Homo sapiens: one gene and its partners. The protein of the gene in region 1 purifies or fractionates together with the protein of each later gene. This does not show direct contact. Each region holds a gene or a part of one and is shown in the gene's direction. Other genes may lie near its edges. The genes, in order: OSBPL9, PRCP, GCH1 and ACOT8.

Evidence for each region.
Region 2: the proteins of OSBPL9 (region 1) and PRCP fractionate together in Homo sapiens (co-fractionation; one large-scale study listed by BioGRID). This does not show direct contact.
Region 3: the proteins of OSBPL9 (region 1) and GCH1 purify together in Homo sapiens (affinity purification with mass spectrometry; one large-scale study listed by BioGRID and IntAct). This does not show direct contact.
Region 4: the proteins of OSBPL9 (region 1) and ACOT8 purify together in Homo sapiens (co-immunoprecipitation; one large-scale study listed by IntAct). This does not show direct contact.

The regions. Positions count from the first base shown.
Region 1 is NC_000001.11:51,762,118-51,767,822, forward strand, and holds part of OSBPL9 (oxysterol-binding protein-related protein 9), read left to right. Parts: intron 1-3,704; coding exon 3,705-3,864; intron 3,865-5,705. UniProt on the Homo sapiens protein: Interacts with OSBPL11 to function as lipid transfer proteins.
Region 2 is NC_000011.10:82,889,169-82,894,873, reverse strand, and holds part of PRCP (lysosomal Pro-X carboxypeptidase isoform 1 preproprotein), read left to right. Parts: intron 1-5,705. UniProt on the Homo sapiens protein: Cleaves C-terminal amino acids linked to proline in peptides such as angiotensin II, III and des-Arg9-bradykinin. This cleavage occurs at acidic pH, but enzymatic activity is retained with some substrates at neutral pH.
Region 3 is NC_000014.9:54,856,861-54,862,565, reverse strand, and holds part of GCH1 (GTP cyclohydrolase 1), read left to right. Parts: intron 1-2,829; coding exon 2,830-2,885; intron 2,886-5,705. UniProt on the Homo sapiens protein: Positively regulates nitric oxide synthesis in umbilical vein endothelial cells (HUVECs). May be involved in dopamine synthesis. May modify pain sensitivity and persistence.
Region 4 is NC_000020.11:45,842,844-45,848,134, reverse strand, and holds part of ACOT8 (acyl-coenzyme A thioesterase 8), read left to right. Parts: intron 1-3,714; coding exon 3,715-3,872; intron 3,873-4,362; coding exon of another isoform or gene 4,363-4,397; exon of another isoform or gene 4,398-4,413; coding exon 4,414-4,608; intron 4,609-4,858; exon of another isoform or gene 4,859-5,291. UniProt on the Homo sapiens protein: Catalyzes the hydrolysis of acyl-CoAs into free fatty acids and coenzyme A (CoASH), regulating their respective intracellular levels. Displays no strong substrate specificity with respect to the carboxylic acid moiety of Acyl-CoAs.

The DNA.
Region 1 (5,705 bases):
TACATGAAGTGGTTAGCTTTGTGTTTGAAAGAGAAGCTTTAGTTAAGTTTTATTTATTTTTAAGTTTTTAAAATTTTTATTTTTGAGACAGGGTCTCACTCTGTCATTCAGGCTGGAGTGCAGTGGTACGATCAGGGCTCACTGTAGTTTTGACCTCCCAGGCCTCAGGCTCCCAAGTAGCTGGGACCACAGGCACACACACCACACTTGGCTGATTTTTAATTTTTGTAGAGAGGAGTCTCCCTATGTTGCTCAGGCTGGTCTCAAACTCTTGGGCTCAAGCAGTCTTCCTGCCTCAGCCTCCCAGTGTGCTGGGATTATACAAGCATGAGGCACCATGCCTGGAATAATTTAAATAAAATAAAATATTACAGAGTTTTGTTTGTTTGTTACCTTAACATTTATTTGGTGATCTATGTTGACTTTTTGAAAAATTTACTCCAGCTAGACTTGCATACTTTCTTATTATGAAGCTGACACAGAAGTGCACAGAATAAAAACTGCAAGTCCTCTTTACTCTCCCCCCAGTAATTTGCATACATGTATGTGCATATACACTTATGTCGTGTATTTTTATTGTTTTTGTTTAAACCTAACTTAGGTTATGTGTTTCTGTGACTTGCGTTTTTCCTTTAACAAAGAACACTTAGAGCACTTTCCATGTTTGTAAAATTAGGTCTACAGCATTCTTTTTACAGCTGCCTGGGCAGGTATTGCTTGTTTTTTCCACTGATGGAAGCAATACTTCAGTGATATCCTTGTACAGCACCTTTGGCATATGTATATTTTTTTAGAAAACATTTATCAGTCTTTCACCTTTTTGCCAGTTTTATAGTTAGAAAAAAGATACTTCATTTTAATTTGCATTTTCTTTTTGTTTGTTTAAACGTTTTGTTTTTTGTTTTTGAGATGGAGTCTCACTCTGTTGCCCAGGCTGGAGTCCAGTGGCACTGTCTCGACTCACTGCACCCTCCACTTCCTGGGTTGAGGTGATTCTCCTGCCTCAGCCTCCTGAGTAGCTGGGATTAAAGATGTGCGCCACCACGCCCCACAAATTTTTGTATTTTTAGTAGAGACGGCATTTCACTATGTTGGCCAGGCTGGTCTCGAGCTTCTGACCTCAGGTGATCTGTCCACCTCCACCTCCCAAAGTGCTGGGATTACAGGTGTGAGCCACCGCGCCCAGCCTGCATTTTCTTAATTCGTTTAGGCTTAGGGTCTTTATTTTTTCTCTGTTTTACAGGGATACTATCAGTGTTAGATACTAGATTTATCTTGTTTTAAAATTAATTAAATGTATGTTGAATAACTTGTAGAACCAAACTCAAGGAAGCATCTAGCACTTTTCACACTGTTAAACCTGGAAACCAAAACCAAAACCACTCTTGAAGAAGTGGGAGATCAGCCCCTTTTGTTCATCCTCAGATTTTTTTCCCGGGTAGGATTTTTCCTGTGTAATGATGAATAATTACCCTGTGATTTAAAAAATTCGAATTAGTAAAAGTACTGATGCTATTACTTTGATCTTTACTATTTAACAGCATGGGCAGTTGCCTTTGAATTTTGAAAGAAAAAAAATAGCTCTCTTACTTGAAGCTCTTGGGAAAAGGCTGATAAGCAATTTGAATAATGAAATTGAAATATTTTGGCTGACTTCTGTATTTCCTGAGCTGTGTCACCTCTTCTTCATTTAAAAAATAGTACCTGTTTGTTGTTGTTCGTATTTTTATGTTGGAATTTTGAAACAACCAAAATTCCAAAATTTTTCTGTTTGGAAATACGTAAAACTAGCAACAGACTTTGAGAAAGTGAGAAGCTCTTCTTATGTATATTAATTTTTGTAAAAATTACTTCCAGAAGATAATCTTCTGAAAACTATTTCAGTTGAAGGTATTTCAAAAATCTAACACTTTAGAGTAGATTTAAAGAAAAATTTAAAATTAAATTCCTGTGATTTATATCTTATTTGATTTTTCATCCTAACTTCATTTTCTCCACTTTTCTTTCCCTTACTTCTCTTGTTAATACAAAAAAGAAATAAAGGAATAAGATAAAATGTTTGCTCTCCTAAGTAAATCTCAGATCTTTTGTTTGCAGTTCCCACTCAAACTTTTCTTCTTAGATACAGTTTCACTTGTGTGATCACCTGGAATATTTGCATGCTACTTAATCATTTGCAATTCTTGATCAATTTTTTTTTTATTCCAATAAGAAAAAGCTGCTTTTCTCTCTTACTTTTTCTGTTGGGTAATAAAAAGAATATGAAGTTATTTACTAATAAGGTGAGCTACCTTTGGAATTTCCAAAATAAGCATTACCTTTTAGGGGTTAAACTTTTTGTGTTATCTTTTTAAAATACCTTTGTGAATATGATGACTAAATGTGGCAAACTGATGTGCTTTTTTTCACAACTATTGAACCATACATATAGGAATGGGCAAAAAATCCGTAAGTGACTCTGGATTCTTTTTTTTTTTTTTTTGAGACAAGGTCTCACTCTGTTTACCCAGGCTGTAATGCAATGGCACAAACACAACTCACTGCAGCCTCGACCTCCTCAGATTAAGTGATCCTGCCCCAGCCTGTCGTGTAGCTGAGACCACAGGCACATGCCACCATGCCCAGCTAATTTATTTATCTATTTTTTTAAGAGATGGGGCTCTCACTTTGTTGCACAGGCTGGTCTTGAACTCCTGGCCTCAAGCAGTCCTCCCAACTGGTCCTCCCAAAGTGCTGGAATTACAGGCATGAGCCATTGTGCCTAGCCTGGATTCATTTTTATTGCTGTCTTCAATTTCTTCCAGAACTGTGGCCCTGGCTTTCAGATTGCCATCAGTGTCTTAATAAACTTTAGTCTTCACCAGACATCTGTAGATTAGTATAAATTGCCTGACTGACAGCCCTTAAATGCTCAGTAAGTTAAATTGATCTTAATACTCCATTTGTCGATTGGTTTGATACTTTTTTGTTCTTGCTTTACTAGTAGATAAGGTACCAGATGATCATCTCAGAGATTAGATGGCAGGCTTCTTTGTCTGGGTCTTCATTAATTTCCATTTCTTTAGTTAGACTATTTAGGAATAGAAAAATGTTCTTCTGAATCTTTTCATTTTCTGCATTCTTCTCATCGTAGTCCTCTATTTTTATCTCCACCTCTGAGCCCCTGACTTAGGTGGAAAAGAGGAGAGGAATTTGGATGGTGTGTGTATTTTCCATGTGATTGCCAAAAAATATTGAATGATAGGAATGTGATATCCTGCAATATTTTAATGTTTATGTGGTCTTAATATTCTTTTCATTTTGCATTCCCAGTGGCTCACTGCTGCATTTTTAGGTATCTGGATCTGCAGTGTAAAATAAGAGTCCCGGCATCCCATTGTAATCATATCTGTTGTTGGACTTGCAACTCCACAACTCATATAATCAAAAGGGCCCCCTTCCTAGTATTAATGATAATCTTTAATTATAGAATGAGGACATAGCTTTTTGTTTCATTTATTTAAAAGGCTGTGTCCTCATTTTATATCATGATTTGCCATTTTCTGTGTGGAGTTTAAATGTTGATTTTCTTTATAAATACTGTAGCGACTTTTACAAACTTAACCAAACTCTTTTTTGATTTTAGAAAAGTCTGCTTTGACTCCATCTCCCTAGTTTCTTCTCTTTCACCAATATTTTTCTCTAAAACCCTTTTAACTTCCTAGGCAGTGGCCATTCACCACCGAGTAGCAGTCTCACTTCTCCAAGCCACGTGAACTTGTCTCCAAATACAGTCCCAGAGTTCTCTTACTCCAGCAGTGAAGATGAATTTTATGATGCTGATGAATTCCATCAAAGTGGCTCATCCCCAAAGCGCTTAATAGAGTGAGTAGATGAACAGAATATGTATTTAAATGATTCTCCTGATTTTTAAAAATCTAATTTGATTTTGAGACTAGTGTTAATGACAGACTTGCCTCATCAGTTATTATTTGGGAAAATTAAAAGGGCAACCTTTTTAATAGAAGTTTTTTTATTGATGTATAATAGTTGTATGGACAACTTGTTTTTGGTTGGCTTATTGAGCAAAGCCAGTTCTGTGAGAGTTTTGATTTTAGTCCTAAGTTAATCCAAGTGGAATAAATAGCATCACCTATAGTAATGTGCCAGCGTTATTAGTTGAACCCTGGCCGTTTCTACAGTACCAACATTAGGAGAGGGTCCAATGAGAGTGAATAAGCTATGAAGCATTATACAAATAAGAGGTTTCTATTACTTTTTTCTTTTTTTAATTAGAGTGGAAATATTCAACACCTATCAGCCAGGCACTGTGCTAGGTTGATATCAAGGTTACAAAGATCCAGGCCCTGCCCACAGGGAACTTTTGGGGGAATAGGCAGACATTTATAATCTAATGAAATACGTGGTATGGTATCTTAGTCCCTTTAAGCTGCCATAACAAAATACAGTAATCTAGGTAGCTTATAAACAACAGAAATTTATTTCCTACAGTGTTATGGAGCAAAAGGGGCTTGCTGCCCAATGTGCTAGAAGCCATTACTAAGTCCCAGGTTTTTGAGGAAAGAAAAGCTTTTTATTGCAAGTCTACTTACAGGGAAATGGAAGTCCACCTCAAATCTGTCTCTCTGCACTGGCTTTAAGGCACTAATTTTATTTAAAAACGTTTAGGGAGGCCAAGTGTGGTGGCTCACGCCTGTAATCCCAGCACTTTGGGAGGCTGAGGCTGGCAGATCATGAGGTCAGGAGTTCGAGACCAGCCTGACCAACATGGTGAAACCATCTCTACTAAAAATACCAAAAAAAAAAAAAAATTAGCCAGGCATGGTGGTACATGCCTATAAATTCCAGCTACTCAGGAGGCTGAGGCAGGAGAATCACTTGAACCTGGGAGGCGGAGGTTGCAGTGAGCTGAGATCACACCACTGCACTCTAGCCTGGGCAACAGAGCAAGACTCTGTTTCCAAACAAACAACAACAACAAAAACAGTTTAGGGAGCCAGGTGTGGTGGCTTATGCCCCTAATCTCAGCAATCTGGGAGGCTGAGGTGGGAGGATCAGTTGAGCCCAGGAGTTTGAGACCAGCTTGGGCAACATGGTAAAACCCTGTCTCTAAAAAAATACAAAAATTAGCTGAGTGTGGTGGCACACGCCTGTCGTCCTAGCTACTCGGGAGGCTAAGATGGGAGAATCTCTTGAACACAGGAGGTGTAGGTTGCAGTGAGCCGAGATTGGGCTGCTGTACTCCAGCCTGGGTGACAAGAGTGAGACTCTGTCTTAAAAAAAAAAAAAAAAGAAGTAGAATTACTGATTTACTTTCATTTTACTTGTGTTTGTTGTAGATGTATTAATAGCTTAGTTTTTGTTGGGAATTACTTCTAATTCTGCTTTCTCAGGGGACTGTTACTATACTGTTACTATAGCTAGGGTTTTTGCTTTTTAACACAGTACAAATTTGGAAATAATTAAATGTAAATTTGCAAGCCAATTACCTTCAGCCAGTCCTATGTGGTCTAGGTGAATATATATAGTTAAGACGTGGAAGGGAGGTTTAAATCTACAACTAAAGAAGGCCAGTGTAGCAGAAAGGGCTTAGTTTAGCATATTGGTTTCTTTTTTTCATTTTGAATGTTAAAACATAAACTATTGAGAAACCATTGTTAGCAGTTTGCCAATAGAAATTTAATTTTGGAAAAAAAGTTTTTATA
Region 2 (5,705 bases), on another chromosome or scaffold:
GGGGGAAATATGGTAATGAATTTACCCTTTTAGGTTTTTGGAAGTACCTTCTTCTCTTGATAACAATAGTAAATCTAACACTGTCTTTCTGATAGCTGAGTTTTAAATTTCTTACTAGCTAATGCTAAAATCTAATTTCAATAAAAATTAACTTTAGGTTTTTCACTGACTTGTTTATATTCCTCTGTCAGCATACTGCAGGAACTTTGTGCTTTAGAGAATTTAGACTTTTAAAACATTTTCAAAGTTTGGGTTCTAGGATCAGCCCTGCCACTAAATCACATCATACTTTTGGGCAAGTTGCCTAACCCTCTAGATCTCATTGTACTAATTTGTAAGATAAATGGATTGGATCTGCTGATCTCTGATTTACCTATAATTTTGTTCACTGAGTGCCTCCTGTTTATAGGGCACTGCGTTAGGAACAGTGGGAATGTGGGTACAAGTTTTGTTTTTTGCCATAACATTAATTGCCTTTGATGAATTGGACCTAAACAACTTTACTATCTTGACTTTGAATAAGACACAGACCCATAACATATAAAGTGTTTTTAAATTAAAAAGTAATCACCTCTTCAATTGGTACAATATTTATAATATTGCATAGTTGATTTATATTATAATATAATAAAACATTGTGTTTATGATTTTAAAGTTTGCTTGGTTGTGGGTCTATTGCAGAAGAAAGGAGAATCATAGGTAAGGAGAATACCTTGATGGTAGATCTTATTTGTCTTCATTTCTAGTGCCTTGGATGGTACTTCTTTTTATTTTTTTATATGGTTCTGACAGGATATGGTACTTCTTAATAAAGATATTATGAATTGAAAAAATTGACCATAAATTAAAATGAATAAGGAGTAAGAGATGAAAGTAAAATTACATATGTAGTGTAAATGTGTCTAATGCATTATTAATGATAGTAATTTACTACCATTTATTGAAAGCTTCAAATACCGTAAATATTATCCTAAGTACTTAATAGACATTCACTTAATTAATCCCTATTACTGTTCTATGAGGTAGATGCTATTATTCCATTTTGTAGGCAAGAGAACTATCCTTTTTGTTTGTTTATTTTTAGACAGGATCTTGCTCTGTCACTCAGGCTGGAGTGAAGCCATGTGATCATAGCTCACTAGAGCCTTGAACCTATGGGCTCAAGTGATCCTCCCACCTCAGCATCCCGGGTAGCTGGGACTACAGGTGTACACCACAATGCCTGGCTAATTTTTTAATCTTTTTGTAGAGATGGGATCTCGTTATGTTGCCCAGGCTGGTCTTGAACTCTTGTCCTCAAGCAATTCTCTTACCTTGGTCTCCCAAAGTGCTAGGATTACAGGCAGGAGCCATCAAACTCGGCGAGCAAGAGAACTATCATATAGAGAGGTTAAATTATTATACTGAGCTATACTACTTATCTGTACCATTTTGTTTTTCTGAAATTAAACTCTGATTAATTTCTAGTGCTGAAATGAATGCCATTAGCTTGCTTGTATTATCCAGGATAAGTTAGGTTTTGCTGCTATAGTAAAATTTATGAATTTCGGTCACTTAACCTAACAAAATGTATGACCCTTACTGTCATAAACTTCCAATTGAATGAGCAGGGGGCTGTGCTCCTGCTTTCACTCAGAGACTAAGTGGCTGATCGGGGTTTCCTTTTTAGCATATGCTTTCATGAACACTTAGCAGTGGAAAAAGAACATGGAAGATCTCATATGAATGCTCCAAAATGGAAATTACTTATGTCACTTCTTCTCACAATTCCTTGGCTAGAACTGGTTAAATGACTGTACCCAATCACAGGGTAGGGAGACAAAAAGTATTGGCTTTGTAGTGCCTAGACAGACAGCACTAATGACTACCATACTCAATCAGTCACTTACCCACCCACCTACCTACCTACTCAGTGCTGATCTGGTGTCTTTTGTATGTCAGGCACTGGGCTAGGTCCTGGCCAGGCATAGATGACTATACCCTGAAGGAGTTCAAATTGTACTTGTTGACCATTCCAACTGCATATACTCAAACTTATATCGAAACAACATGGAAAACACTGAAAATTTTGTAATGTCTTGGCATTCATCTGACTCCAACACACAGATTGCTTCAAGAAATAGCCCTGAAGTGAGGCGAATTTTTAAAATGTTTTCTTGCTTAACTTGTCATCATTATAATAGTTTACTGACCTGTTGTGTGTGTACATTAAAGCACATGATAAAAAGGAACTTATTTATTGATACCATCATTCAGTAATTAAAAATAATTGTTTTGCCTAGCTTTATTATAATAAAAGAAACAAAATTGATATATAGATTTTTGTAATCTTAAGTGTGCTTTGGTAAGTGTTGAGTAATTGTTAATTAAAAAGAATAATTCTGTACTGAAAATTTTTATTATCTATTTAACAATATGTATGTAATGGGATAATTTATAAAAATATTTTTTTCTTTCTGGTTCACAATTTTAAAAACCCTAGGTATTGTTTATGAGAAGTGAATGAATGAACATTTATTGATTATCTACTCTGAGCTCAATATTATGCTAAACTCTTTTACATCTCTTTTTAATTATTATTAATATAATCGCTTTTTGAAATAGATGGTTTAATTGAAACTCATAGAGGTTAAGTGTCTTAAGCTATTAAAGGACAATATTGTGAGTCATGTTTTTTATCTGTTTCTTTCAAGATCTATGATCTTTCATTGACATCATGATGTCTCTGTAATCTAAGCAGTAGTAACAAAACTGATGTCTCTGTGTCCACTTATTAGTTCATATTCAGCTTTACAACAATCCTGTGAGGTACATATTCTCACTAGTAGATTCACTTCTAAAAGTGAAGTGAAGTTCACAAATATCAAAGGAAGAAACATCCAAAATATCCCATTTGTAAATATCCTGGTTTTTCAGTCCCAAATTGTAAATAACTTGTGGTATGTCTATAAAATGGAATATTGTTAGCCCAAAAAATTATGGTCTTAAAGTATTCTGACAATGTGATAAAATGTTTATGCGTTAATAATAAATGAAAAAAGCAAAATGGAAAATGAATGTTCAATGTCTGTCTAAATTCATTTACCTAATTTTTTATTAGGTGCCTACTATATTCGAGGCACTGGGGAAAGAGCATTCTAGGCATGGGGAAAAACATTCTAGGCACAGGGAATGTCTAGGCAGGGAAGGTCAAGTGCAAAAACCCTGAGGTAGGTGTGTGCTCAGTGGGAGGAACTGTAGGGAGGATGGTATGTCTGGAGGGACATGCCCCAGGGAGAGAGTACTAGAGGAGGACAGAAAGGAGGTTCAGGGAGCCAGATAATGCGGGGACATCTGGGCCATTGTAAGGAATTTGGCCGTAAATCAGAATGAGATGAGAAGCCTTTGGAGCTTTAGGGGTAGAAGAATGACTCTGATTAATAAATCTTAAGAAACACTTTGGCTATTGTGTTGAGAATAGACTATGTAGGGGAAAGGGGGTAAACAGAAAGACCAGGTTGTTGCAAAATTTCAGATTAGAGACGATGGTGGCTTGGATTAGTGTGGTAGTGGTGGAGGCTGAGAAGTGCTCAGATTCTGGATATTTTTGAAGGTGTAGCTGAGAGGTATAGTTGATGAATTAGATGTAGGTTGTGAGATAAAGAATTGAAGATGACTCCAAGGTTTTTGGCCTGAGCAGTTAGAAGGTAGGAGTTGTCATTTACCAAGAAGGGGAAAGCTGCAGAAGGAGTAGGTTTGGGGAAGGAAGGAGAAGAGGAACTTGGTTTCAGAAATGGTATTGTGTCAAGAATTTAGAAGAAAGGTGGGGCAAGTAATACAAATTTGAAGCTGTTAGTATACAGATGGTATGTAAAACCATGAGATTGGAAGAGAGCAACAAAGGAGTTAGTGAAGATGATCTTTTCTTTTAAAGATGATCTTCTCAACACTGCATATTTAGAAGTCAGGGAAATGGGGAACCAGTTAAGGAGACTGAGAAGGAACAGTTGGAGGAGGAAAACCAGGAGGGTGTGATACCCTGATTACTTAATGAAAAAAGCATTTCCGTAAGAAGGTAACCAGTAGTGCCTAAATAAATGACTGGGAATTGGCCACTTGATTTAGCAATGTGGAGGTTATGGTGACCTTGACAGCAATTTCCTCAGAGGGTGAGTGGAGGCGAAAGCCTCATTGGAGTGGATGCAAGAGAGAATGGGAGAAGCTGAATTGAGACCACGAGTGTGGTAATCTTTTGGGGAATTTTGCTGTGAAGGGGAGCAGAAATATGGTGTGGTAGATGGAGGGGGAGAGGGTTCCCATTTTTAAGATGGGAGAAATAATCGAATGTATGCTAAGGGAAATGAGCCGAGAGAGTGAGAAAGTGACGGAACAAGAAAGAAATAGAATTGGTAGTGGGATATCTTAGGCAAGAGGAAATGGGATCTAATGAAAAAACAAGAGCATGAACAGTTTGACCATAGTCAAACTGGGTTAGGCACATCATATAGGCACAGATGAAGGTAAGAAGGTGGTATGGTAGTGAGAACTTGTGTGCTGTTTCTCAGAACGCTTCCCTTTTCCCAGCAAAATAAGATGGAAGGTCATCAGCTGAGAGTGAGAAAGGGAGAGAACAGAAATGCTCCTCTAGCAGAGAAGGAAAGTAAATGCACTAGGGGCATATGGTTTGATTGCAGGGCAGCTTTTCTAACTTTGTAAGGCCATTTGATGTAACTGTTATGTAAGTTAGTAAGGCCATTTGATGTGGCTGTATGTTTCTCTAGCTACATTCAGTTTCTTGGGTATGGCTGTGGAGTTGGTGAATTGCACTTTTGCCAAGTGAGAACAAAAAGGTGAGAGAGGCCTGGGTAGTGAGAATTGCATGCAAGGGAGTGATTACAGCCCCTTTTTGCAGCCCCTATTACCGCCTCCCCTGACTACTAGAAGAGTAAACCAGTTGGTCTTCCTAGCTTCCTGCAGTTTCCCCCTCCGGTACAGCTCCCATGGGTTGTCACATAAATCACCTCTCCTCCAGTTGAATCACTGTTCTTTTCAGAAACTGCGACTCTTTATTGTTTGCTTTATTAAGAACAAAATCCTGTAGCATTTAAGGCCTTTCAATCTATGGCCCTAACTGCCTTTCCATTTTGCTTATCTATTCACCACATATGCCCATTCCTTTCCTGTCTATGTGTTAATCCACATTGTTCCCTTTGCCTGGAATCTCTCTCTCCCATGGGCCTTACCTCTTTTATCAATCCCATTCCATTTTTTAACCCCTACCTCTAACACTGCCTCCTCCAGGAGCTGTTTTTTTTCTTCTGCTTCTGCTGCTCCTGCTGCTGCGTCTTCTGCTGCTGCTTCTGCAGCTTCCTCTGCTGCTTCTGCCTCTGCCTCCTCCAGGAGCTGTCATCCTTCTCCTTCTTCTCGCTTCCTCTTCCTCTTCTTTCTTTCTCTTCCTCCCCCTCCTTCCTCCATCCCTCCTCCTTCTCCTTCTTCTTCTTCCTCTTTTTTATTTTGTTGGTTTTTTTTTTGAGACAGAGTCTTGCTCTGTCACCCAGGCTGGAGTGCAGTGTTGTGATCATAGCCCACTGCAGACTTGGCCTCAAACTCCCGGGCTCAGGTGAACCTCCTGCCTCAGGCTCTTGAGTAGCTGAGACTAAAGGCTTGTGCCACCATGCCTGGATATTTTTTTTAAAAAAAAGAAATGGGGTCTTGCTATGTTGCCC
Region 3 (5,705 bases), on another chromosome or scaffold:
AAAAAAACAGGCAAAAATTAGCTAGCATGGTGGCATGCACCTGTGGTCTCAGCTACTCGGGAGGGTGAGGTTGGAGAATCGCTTGAACCCAGGAGGTCGAGGCTGCAGTGAGCCGAGATCACACCACTGCACTCCAGCCTGGCAAGAGAGTGAATCCGTGTCCAAAAAAAAAAAAAAAAAAAAAAAGAGTAGTGCTTCATAAGGGTGCTGAAGACTTCATATTATATCACATCAGGGCCGAGTGAGGTGGCTCATGCCTGTAATCCCAGCGACTTGGGAAGTCAAGGTGGGAGGATAGCTTCAGGTCAATAGTTCAAGACCAGCAAGTGAGACTGTCTCTACCACAAAATAAATTTTTTTTTAAAATTAATTGGGCATGGTGGGTGCATACCTGTAGTCCTAGCTACTTTTTGGGAGTCTGAGGCAGGAAGATTGCTTGAGCTCAGGAGTTTCAGGTTACAGTGAACTATGATCATGCCACTGTACCCCAACCTGGGTGACAGAACAAGACCTTGTCTCTAAAAAGAAAAGAAGAGAAAGCAATCAGAAAACCCAGATACATCACATCAGAAGCCATATCGTATCTGGAAATCCTGCAATTGATAATGAAGGAATCTTTGAAAGGGAATCTATTGGTGAGCAAATTAGGCACAGAAAGCCTGTGACTTGTTCAAGAGGATAGAGAGAGTTAGTGGCTTGGCTGCAGCCAGATCCAAGGCACTGATTCTGTACTCAGCCTGTCACCATTTTATCCTGTTACTTTCTGCTATTACTTCCTCAGTGTTTGTGTTTTTGCTACCTTTGTTTTAAAAATATATTATTTAGTGATTTTTTTTTTTTTTTTGAGACAGTTTCGCTCTTGTTGCCTAGGCTGGAGTGCAGTGGTGCGATCTCGGCTCACTGCAACCTCCGCCTCCCAGGTTCAAGCAATTCTTCTGCTTCAGCCTCTCGAATAGCTGGGATTACAGGCACCCGCCACCACGCCTGGCTAATTTTTGTATTTTTAGTAGAGATGGGGTCTCACCATGTTGGCCAGGCTGGTCTTGAACTCCTGACCTCAGGCAATCCACCCAAAATGTTGGAATTACAGGTGTGAGCCACCACTCCTGGCCTATCTAGTGATTTTGTGAAATGGACATTTAAATTACCTAGGATCTTAAGACCAAAAATAGTATAAACAATGAACAAATTCCGTGTCTGCATGGAAATGTAAAAATTTCAGACAGCATAGAAGACCTTGGTTCATGGGAAAGTTTTAACTCTCTAATTTTTCTTTGAAATCCTCAATGTTCAGGTGCTATTTTACTTTTTCCTCCTGCCAACCAGGAAGGCAATGAGGTGGACTTCTCAAATTCCTAAAGCATAGTGCCAATGGATGGGGGAAAAAATCACTAAGTACTACTAGATCAATTATGTAAATAGTAAGTGAACAATGAAAACAGTGTTAGCAAACCATGATGCCGTTGAGTCTCTAATTTTATATTCGGTTAATTAATTGCCTACAAGTGACCATTTACTCTATTAATCTTTTCAGAGAACTAATGTTTTTCGTATGTAGTATTTGGCCCCAAAAGAGTAACTTTTATATTTGATATTAATTGGTGCCATTTAAGATAACAGAAATGGCCTGGCTGTATATTGGGTCCTTTAAAACTTAGTTCTTAGGGTGCAGGTTCTTGCCAAGCCATGGTGGTAGCAGTGCCCTTTTTCTCCAGTTAGGAAGATGGGGCCGGGCGTGGTGGCTCACGCCTGTAATCCCAACTCTTTGGGAGGCCGAGGCGGGCAGATCACAAGGTCAGGAGATCGAAACCATCCTGGCTAACACGGTGAAACACCATCTCTACTAAAAATACAAAAATTAGCTGGGTGTGGTGGCAGGCGCCTGTAGTCCCGGCTACTCAGGAGGCTAAGGCAGGGGAATTGCTTGAACCTTGGAGGCGGAGCTTGCAGTGAGCCAAGACTGGGCCACTGTACTCCAGCCTGGGCGACAGAGTGAGACTCCATCTCAAAAAAAAAAAAAAAAAAAAGGAAGATGGTGCACTCTCTAGCAGCTTAGAAACCAGGAAGCCAAGCACAAAAGGGTGTGGAGACCTTCTGTGCTGCAGGGCTTTGCGGTGGGATCTTAAGGCTGTGAGGTGGGATCTTAAGGCTGCTGTGATGTGTGGAATGGCAATACTTATGCTTACAGTTTTTGCCATTTAAAGGAGGCTTTCCTGTATACATTTTAGTGTTGCTATGAGATCATTTGCCTTTCCTTGAGAATGTTTCTCCTCCATAAAGAAGAAACTTTCAGATTTGTGTCAAGAGTTCAACTTCACAGGTAAGTGTCAGGGCCATGCAATTGACTCTTGAACAACATGAATTTGAACTGCATGGGTCCACTTAGACATGGCTCTTTTTCAAGCAAACACTGATCAAAAATTCTACAGTATTTGCAGGATACAAAACCTGTATAGATGGAGGGGCAACTTTTCATATATGCAGGTTCTGCAGGGCCGACTGCGGGACTTGAGTATGCAGGATTTGGGTATACACAGGGGTCCTGGAAGCAATCTCCCGCATTTACCAACGGACAACTGTACAAGTTTGTTATTTGATTAATAGACTCATACTTATATATTTTGCTTTTACTGCATTTATGTAATTTTAAAAATACATATATAAATGTTTCATTTTCTAAGTCTTAACAGTTCCAGATGTTTTCAAGGTAATACATTGTCGTGATAAATTACATAAAAGTGTACTATATTCTTTCTATATTTCCTTATTTTGTCACAAAGAAGGCACTGTATTTTCACTCAGCTAATGATTTCCGTCTCTTCTCTGAAGGTCCATATTGGTTATCTTCCTAACAAGCAAGTCCTTGGCCTCAGCAAACTTGCGAGGTAAGTGTGACTGTGCAGTGAACAAGAATACAGGTTTATAGGACCTGCCCTCATCTGCTGAGAATCTATCTCATCAGGCTTTCTCTCTTTACCTGTATGGATCTAACTTGGAAGTCATATTGCAACTTAAAGACTTGGAGGGTCTGAAACACAGATGCCCCTTCCTTCTCGTCCCCTACTGCCTGCTTCCTCTTCCACTTCCCACCCTTTCTTCCATAGATACATACATCCTGGAAGTCTCAGCCCACCTCTTTCTCTGCAGAGCCTTCTCTGACTGGAGAGGTCCTGAGCTTACCTTCAGTCCAGCCCCATCCTTTAAGGGGGGTTTAGCTAACAGTGAGGGGTTGGGGAAGAAGCTGGGCAGGGGTCTAGCTGCAGTGCTCTGCTGTCGAACTTGTTGTCAGGCCTGAGGACTCTTCTATCCTTGTCAAGGGGAGTGCTCACCTTCTTTGCTTTCATACAACACTGCTTTCAGACTTGTAATGAAACTTCCCTGTGGGATCCCCAGCCTCAACCCTGCCTTGCTCTGCACTGGATGCCTCCAGGCATATCTCAGGGGTCCTGCAGGCCAGTCCGTTCATGTCTAGGTTCTTTGTTTCTGCAAACACAAGACTGCCTGCCTTGGCTTTGCACAGCTTTATTCTGATACAGTGTTCACGCTCCTCGCTCTCATTTCTCTTTCCTGCTACAATCTTCTTTTCTGTTGTTTATCCTGTGGGTTCATGCCTTAAAAAATTCCCTTACTGCCTTTTTTATTTGGGTTTTAGGAGAGGTGATGTACATACACGTTCATCTGTGTTTAACTGGAAGTCAACATGGGGGTTTGTGTTCAGATATCTCTGGTAGGCCCCAGCCACCAATATTTTATTGCCCTTAAATATCCTTGTTGTTTCTTCGTATAAAGTTAGTGAATTTTGAGTGATGGAGGAAATACTGGGAGGTGTGTGTGTGTGTGGAGAGAGAGAGAAAGTTAAGAACAAGATGAAGGGGTCGGGTAAAGTGTTCCTACTCTTTTTTTTTTTCAAAAATAATCAAGCTAAGTTTGAATAACTTGAGGTTATAGTGACCATATCATAATTGAAATAAATGAGTCTCGGCCGGGTGCCGTCTTTCACACTTGTAATCCCAGCACTTTGGGAGGCTGAGGCGGGCGGATCACTTGAGGTCAGGAGTTTGAGACCAGCCTCACCAACATGGTGAAACCCCATCTCTACTAAAAATACAAAGATTAGCTGGGCGTGGTGGCGCACACCTGTAATCCCAGCTAATCAGGAGGCTGAGGCAGGAGAATTACTTGAACCCGGGAGGCAGAGCTTGCAGTGAGCCGAGATTGTGCCATTGCACTCCAGCCTGGGCGATGGAGTAAGACCCTATCTCAAAAAAATAAAAATAAAAGAAGAGGAATAAATGAGTCTCTGTGACCAGTTGACTGTGCTGTGGCTCTGATGTGTTCCTGTTTCTTTATGCAGGCCCTGGGATTTAACACAGTTGTGAAATGGTGGTCCTGATATTTCTCAATTCTGTGTTGGAATCTGTAAAAAAAAAACTACTCCAGCAATCTGACAACTGCCCTCTAAAGTTGTTCCTGTTACTTTGTTTTCACTTCCACTTTCTCATTCATTTCCTCTGGGGATCAATAAGAAAGTGGGTAGAAGAGACAAATTTAACTTCCCCAGTTTCTGACCTCATTCCTGCTCAGCTATTTTGCTATTAGATAGGGCTGCTTGGCACCATGAAAGAATATTATATCATAGCTGTAATTGCTTCACTGGAATAAGGCTCTTAGCACAAATCCAGAAACATTCTGGCTGCTTGCGTGTGATCCATCCCTGGTGGCAGTGCTGAAAAGTTGCTGAGAAAAAGTGTGTTGGTAGTGATTGGGAGTAATTAATCTTACTATAATTTTTATTAACGACTCCCTTCCCAGTAACTTACCCTCAACTAATGATGTATTAAACCAATTTCATGTCAACTGTGAGTAAAAGTATCTTTACTAAAATTGGTTATTCTTATGGTTTTATAATATACAGTCTAAGTAAAATCAGCATGCTTACTGTGCAAACATAGCTGTAGGCCCAGTCCCCTGGGCCTCCCTGTCAGCAAGATTGCTAACCCTATACCTTGCCCATATAGAAATTCCAGCACTGCTGATGCCTATAACAGACTGTCCATATGTGAAAGGTGTAATGGATAGTTTCATAGTGTAAAAAAGCTTGGCAGATCACATTAGGCCTTGGTCTTAATGTAACAGCCTTCTCTGAAAAACCAACTGTTGATCATGATTAACACTTTATGGGAAATGGACTCTTGAGTGATTCAGTGAGATCATACAATAAATGGCAACCTGGTGGTAGAAGGAAATAATCTTAGTTATTTCCTTTCCAAGTGAAAGGAAAAGATCTCAAATAATTAAGCTTTTATGAAACAATACAAAGGAGTTGATTATTAGCATGGGGATTTGTCCTTAGACTAATAGGATTAAAATTTAAGAATAAAATGGAACATGAAGCCAAAGAACCAAGTGTATGTTGCTTTCAAATATTTTGCAAAAAATTTGAATAAAGAGTCTATTAAATAGAAAAGAAGACTAAGATTTTATCCAACTACTTATTCCTTATAAGAAGTAAGAATATTTAGAGAATGAAGAGGAATAAAAGCTGAATGTCTTAGCAAAACTTCACTGCTCATTTTAATCTTATATATGAAGTTTGTTATATGCTTGCCTTTAAATGAATGACCTTTCAGTGCCAGTGAAGTCAAATATCAAGCAGTAAAGCCTTAAGTAACAAGAAAATGCCAGAAGTGAGTTGATCTGGCTCA
Region 4 (5,291 bases), on another chromosome or scaffold:
AGTTGGATACTAGCCTCGCCAACATAGCAAGACTCCATCTCTAATTTAAAAATAAGGCTGGGGCTGGGTGTGGGGGCTCATACCTATAATAACACTTTGGGAAGCCCAAGTGGGAGGATCACCTGAGCCCAGGAGTTCAAGACCAGCCTGGGCAACATGGTGAAACCCTGTCTCTATAAAAAATACAAAAATTAGCCGGGTGTCGGGGCATGTGTCTGTAGTCCCAGCTACTTGGGAGGCTGAGGCGGGGGGATCACTTGAGCCTGGGAGGTGGAGGCTGCAGTGAGCCGAGATCGTGTTACTGTGCTCCAGCCTGGGCAACAAGAGCAAGACTCTGTCTGAAAAAAGAAAAAAAGAATATATATTTTGTTGTTGTTTATATATATACATGTTTGTTTGTTTTTGAGATGGAGTCTTGCTCTTGTTGCCCAGGCTGGAGTGCAGTGACACCATCTCGGCTCACTGCAGCCTCTGACTCCCAGACTCAAGTGATCCTCCCGCCTCAGCCTCCCAAGTAGCTGGGATTACAGGCACCTGCTACCATGCCCAGCTAATTTTGTATTTTTAGTAGAGATGGCGTTTCACCATGCTATCCAGGCTGGTCTCAAACTCTTGATCTCAGGTGATCCACCCACCTTGACCTCCTAAAGTGCTGGGATTATAGGCATGAGCCACCATACCTGGGAAAAAAAACCATATATATATTTTATATATATATGTATATAGAAATACTTCCGTAACCACTTGTTAAGTACCACCTCCCCAGCCCCCTAAGTGATTCCCTCTCTCCCCCAGGCCCCTGGTCCAGCAACTTAGGACTTAATGCACACCAGGAGTGAGTGTCCTCTGGAGAGCTGCAGCGCTATGGCCTATGTTTGGTCACTGCCTTTGCATTAGTGCATGTTTTTGTTTGTTTGTTTGTTTTGAGACAGAGTCTCGCCCTGTTGCCTAGGCTGGAGTGCAGTGGCATGATCTCGGCTCACTGCAACCTCTGCCTCCCAGGTTCAAGCAATTCCCGTGCCTCAGCCTCCCAAGCAGCTGTGATTACAGGCACATGCCACCATGCCTGGCTAATTTTTGTATTTTTTTAGTAGAGACCAGGTTTCGCTATGTTGACCAGGCTGGTCTTGAACTCCTGACCTCAAGTGATCGACCTGCCTTGGTCTCTCAAAGTGCTGGGATTACAGGCGTGAGCCACCGTGCCCGGCCACATGTTTTATGTATATAAAACATATGTACAAAAATACAAATATGTATTTTCCCCTAACCATTAGACCACCAGGGAGCATGTTAGATATTTTGAATACCTGGTAAAATATATTTATTTGGATCACACCTAATCAAGTTTGAAAAATGCTGGTACAGGGGAAAGAGCTCTGGGTCCAGACAAAGGATAGACACATGGATTCTGTCCAGGGCTGTGCCTCTGTGAATGCTCACCTGCTGTGGGACAGTGCCCAACTCCCCAGGGCCCTAGTTTCTTCTTCTAAAAAATGGGAATGCTCATTTCTGCCCTGCCTACTTCTTAGCTGTATCATAAGGAGAGAATGTCTCTATCTCGTGTTAGATACTGGGGAGGCAGCAGAGTATGACGGGATGGATGTGGGTTTGGGAACCTGAAAGGCCTGGATTCAATTCTAGATTTTGTCCCTACTAGCTGTGTGAGTTTGGGCAAGTTGCTTTCCCACTCTGAGCCAGTACTCACCATTATAAAATGGTGCTAATCATATTCCTACCTCATAAGGCTGCTGTGAGGATTAAATAAGAGAGAAAAGGCACTTAGCGTGCTAGTACTAACTAGCACAATGGCAGTGAATTGTAGTTATATCACTATTAACAGAAAAAACACAGGGCCTGGTGTGTGGTTGCAGTTCGACAAATGTTTGCTGAAATGAAAGGAAGACATTGTTAAAGGACCTTGAATTTAGATCTGTGCTGTTAATAAGGTAGTCTCTAGCCACTCGTGGCTATATTACATTAATTAAAATTAAATAGGTCCGGGCGCAGTGGTTCATGCCTGTAATCCCAGTACTTTGGGAGGCCAAGGCGGGTGGCTCACCCAAGGTCAGGAGTTTGAGACCAGCCTGGCCAACATGGTGAAACCTCATCTCTATTAAAAATACACACACAAAAAAATTAGCCAGGCGTGGTGGCCCGTGCCTGTAATCCCAGCTACTCAGGAGGCTGAGGCAGGAGAGTCGCTTGGACCCAGGGGGCAGAGGTTGCAGTAAGCAAGATTGAGTCACTGCACTCCTGACTGGGCAACAGAGCGAGATTCCGTCTTAAAAAAAAAAAAACAAAAAAAAACCAAAGTCAGTAGAATGAACAATTCTGTTCCTCAGTTGCATTAGCCACATTTCAGGTGCTCCATAGTCACATGTGGCTAGTGGCTACCATAGTGTGCTGTGCAGATAGGCATTCCATCATCATAGGAGGTTCTGTCCAACAGCACTCCAGAGGATAGGGGTGAAAATGGCAGGACCTGTGCAGAGCACTATGGGTGGTTGTCACTGTATTGAAGGGAGTTCCTTGGAATGGGCTCCTCCCCCTGGGGGGATGCAATGTTCCCTACTGTGTAGGGTTTGGTAACTCAGGCCAAGTCAGGCAGCCTGTTTCTTGAGTGTTTAAAATAATGAAGTGGCTGGGCACAGCAGCTCACTCCTGTAATCCCAGCACTTTGGGAGGCTGAAGTAGGAGGATCACTTAAGGCCAGGATTTTGAGACCAGCCTGGGCAACATAAAGAGACCCCATCTCTACAAAAAAAAGTAAAAATAATCCCAGCATTTTGGGAGGCTGAGGCGGGCGGATCATGAGGTCAGGAATTCGAGACCACCCTGGCCAACACAGTGAAACCCCATCTCTACTAAACATACAAAAATTAGCTGGGCATGGTGGCAGGCGCCTGTAATCCCAGCTACTCGGGAGGCTGAGGCAGGAGAATCACTTGAACCTGGGAGGCGGAGGTTGCAGTCAGCTGAGATTGCACCACCGCACTCAAGCCTGGGTGACAGAGCTAGACTCCGTCTCAAAATAAAGAAATAATAAAAATGTTAGCCAGGCACAGTGGCGTACACCTCTAGTCCCAGCTACTCGGGAGGCCAAGGCAAGAGGATGGCTTGAGCCTGGGAGTTGGAGACTGCAGTGAGCTGATTGCGCCACTGTACTCCAGCCTGGGTGAGAAGACGACCTTGTCTCTAAAAAAATAGAAAATAATCATACTGTGGACCCAGATTGCCTGAGTCCAAATCCTGTCTCTCCAATTTTTAAGCAAGCTACCTGGACTCTGTGCTTATTTCACTGATGAAATGGGGGTGATAATAGTACCTATCTCACAGGGTTGTTGTGAGGAATACTATTGTATGTACAATGCTTAGAACAGTGCATATTACAGGGTATGCCTTATTACTATGATGTGTTGGTTAGATATTCATGATCTTGTCTTCACAGTGTTGGTTATGAGGTAGGTTACTATCATTATCCACATTTTGCAGATGGGAAAATAGACTCAGATTACTAATTAGCACGAGACCACATGGCTCGTAAGTGGCCAAGAAGGGATTCAAACGCTGCACTATCCTGCCTGCCACAGGGGAGGGGAGCTTTGGGGATATCAGGGGTCCCTGTGGAAGAATGAGGGGAGTCAGAAGAGGCAATGCAGATGTGACTCCCTCTCTTCCTGGGTCTCACCCCGACCCTCTTCCCTTTACTTTCAGGGACCCTAACCTCCAAAAGAGGTACCCATTGGCGCTCAACCGAATTGCTGCTCAGGAGGTCCCCATTGAGATCAAGCCAGTAAACCCATCCCCCCTGAGCCAGCTGCAGAGAATGGAGCCCAAACAGATGTTCTGGGTGCGAGCCCGGGGCTATATTGGTAAGAGTACCCCATGGATGGGAGGAAACCACTCTCCAAGGGGTCTACCACTCATTTGCTGTGTGGCCTTGGGCACATGAGTTCCCTTCTCTGGGCCTGTTTCCTTATCTGCATGATGGGGAAGTTGGCTTAGCTTCTCACCTGGGCCCTCTCAGCCCTTTGCATGGGGAGAAGGTGGAGATGACTATAATCCCGACACAAGGCCTTTCTGAGGAAGGCAAAAGGCACCTCGCTGGGGTTGTTGTCCAGCTTTGCTGCTAACTATAAAGTATCTTTGTGCAAATTGGAAGAAGACACCCCTTTTGGGGCCTAGAGTGGGAGACTTGGGTGGTGAAGACTGAATTTCAGTCCCTGCTCACCCCTGCCCTCCCCAAGTCGCCATCTCACTTCTCCCCTATCACACACACACACTGTAGGCCAAGCGCTCTTGTGCAGCAACCAGTCTGCACACCCATGCACGGGAGTCCCTTTTCCCCCTACCTCCGTGCAGGTCCTGAGCTGGAAAGCCCAGGAGCCCAGGGCTGATGGGGACCTGTTGCAGGCGAGGGCGACATGAAGATGCACTGCTGCGTGGCCGCCTATATCTCCGACTATGCCTTCTTGGGCACTGCACTGCTGCCTCACCAGTGGCAGCACAAGGTGCACTTCATGGTCTCACTGGACCATTCCATGTGGTTCCACGCCCCCTTCCGAGCTGACCACTGGATGCTCTATGAATGCGAGAGCCCCTGGGCCGGTGAGTGTGGGGCCGTGTGGGACAAGGGCACTGACCTTGAGTGGCAGGAGCCTGCTTTCTTGGGTGATGCTGATTTCCCGACTTCCTGTGTGGCGCTGCACAGGTCACTTCCTTTCCTTCCCTCCCAGGCTTTGGCATCTTCATCTTCAAAATGAGAGGGTGAGGCCGGGACACCTGCTCTGCTCTAAATTTCTAGAATGTGCTGGAAATGTGATTCACCTTCTCCCAGGGACCCAGTTCTAGTCCCAAAACCAGTTCAGATTCTTTGTATTACAATAGGCAAATCATATCTTCCATCTGAACCTCAGTTTCCTCATCTAAACAAAGAGGGTTACATTACAGCAGTGGTATCCAAACCCGCAGTCCATCAGACTGCCATTTGGGGATGCCTTTTCAAAATAGATTCTGATTCCACCCTCAAGATTCTCACTCAGTAGGTCTTGGATAAGGTCCAGGAAACTGTATTTTTAAGTTCTCTAAGTGATTCTGATTAACCTGATTGGGATCGGGGCATTCAGTGGTCCCTAAGGGCCTGCTTGGACCTTCCTTGCAGGGGAGAGAAACAAGACTCGTTCATCAATGTCTAGCTTCAGAACCCTGACCTCCTTTCCAAGGGAGTACATTTCAAATGAAGAAAAGCTTTGCTTGATAAACCAAGGACAAAACTCAAGGATTCTTTATAC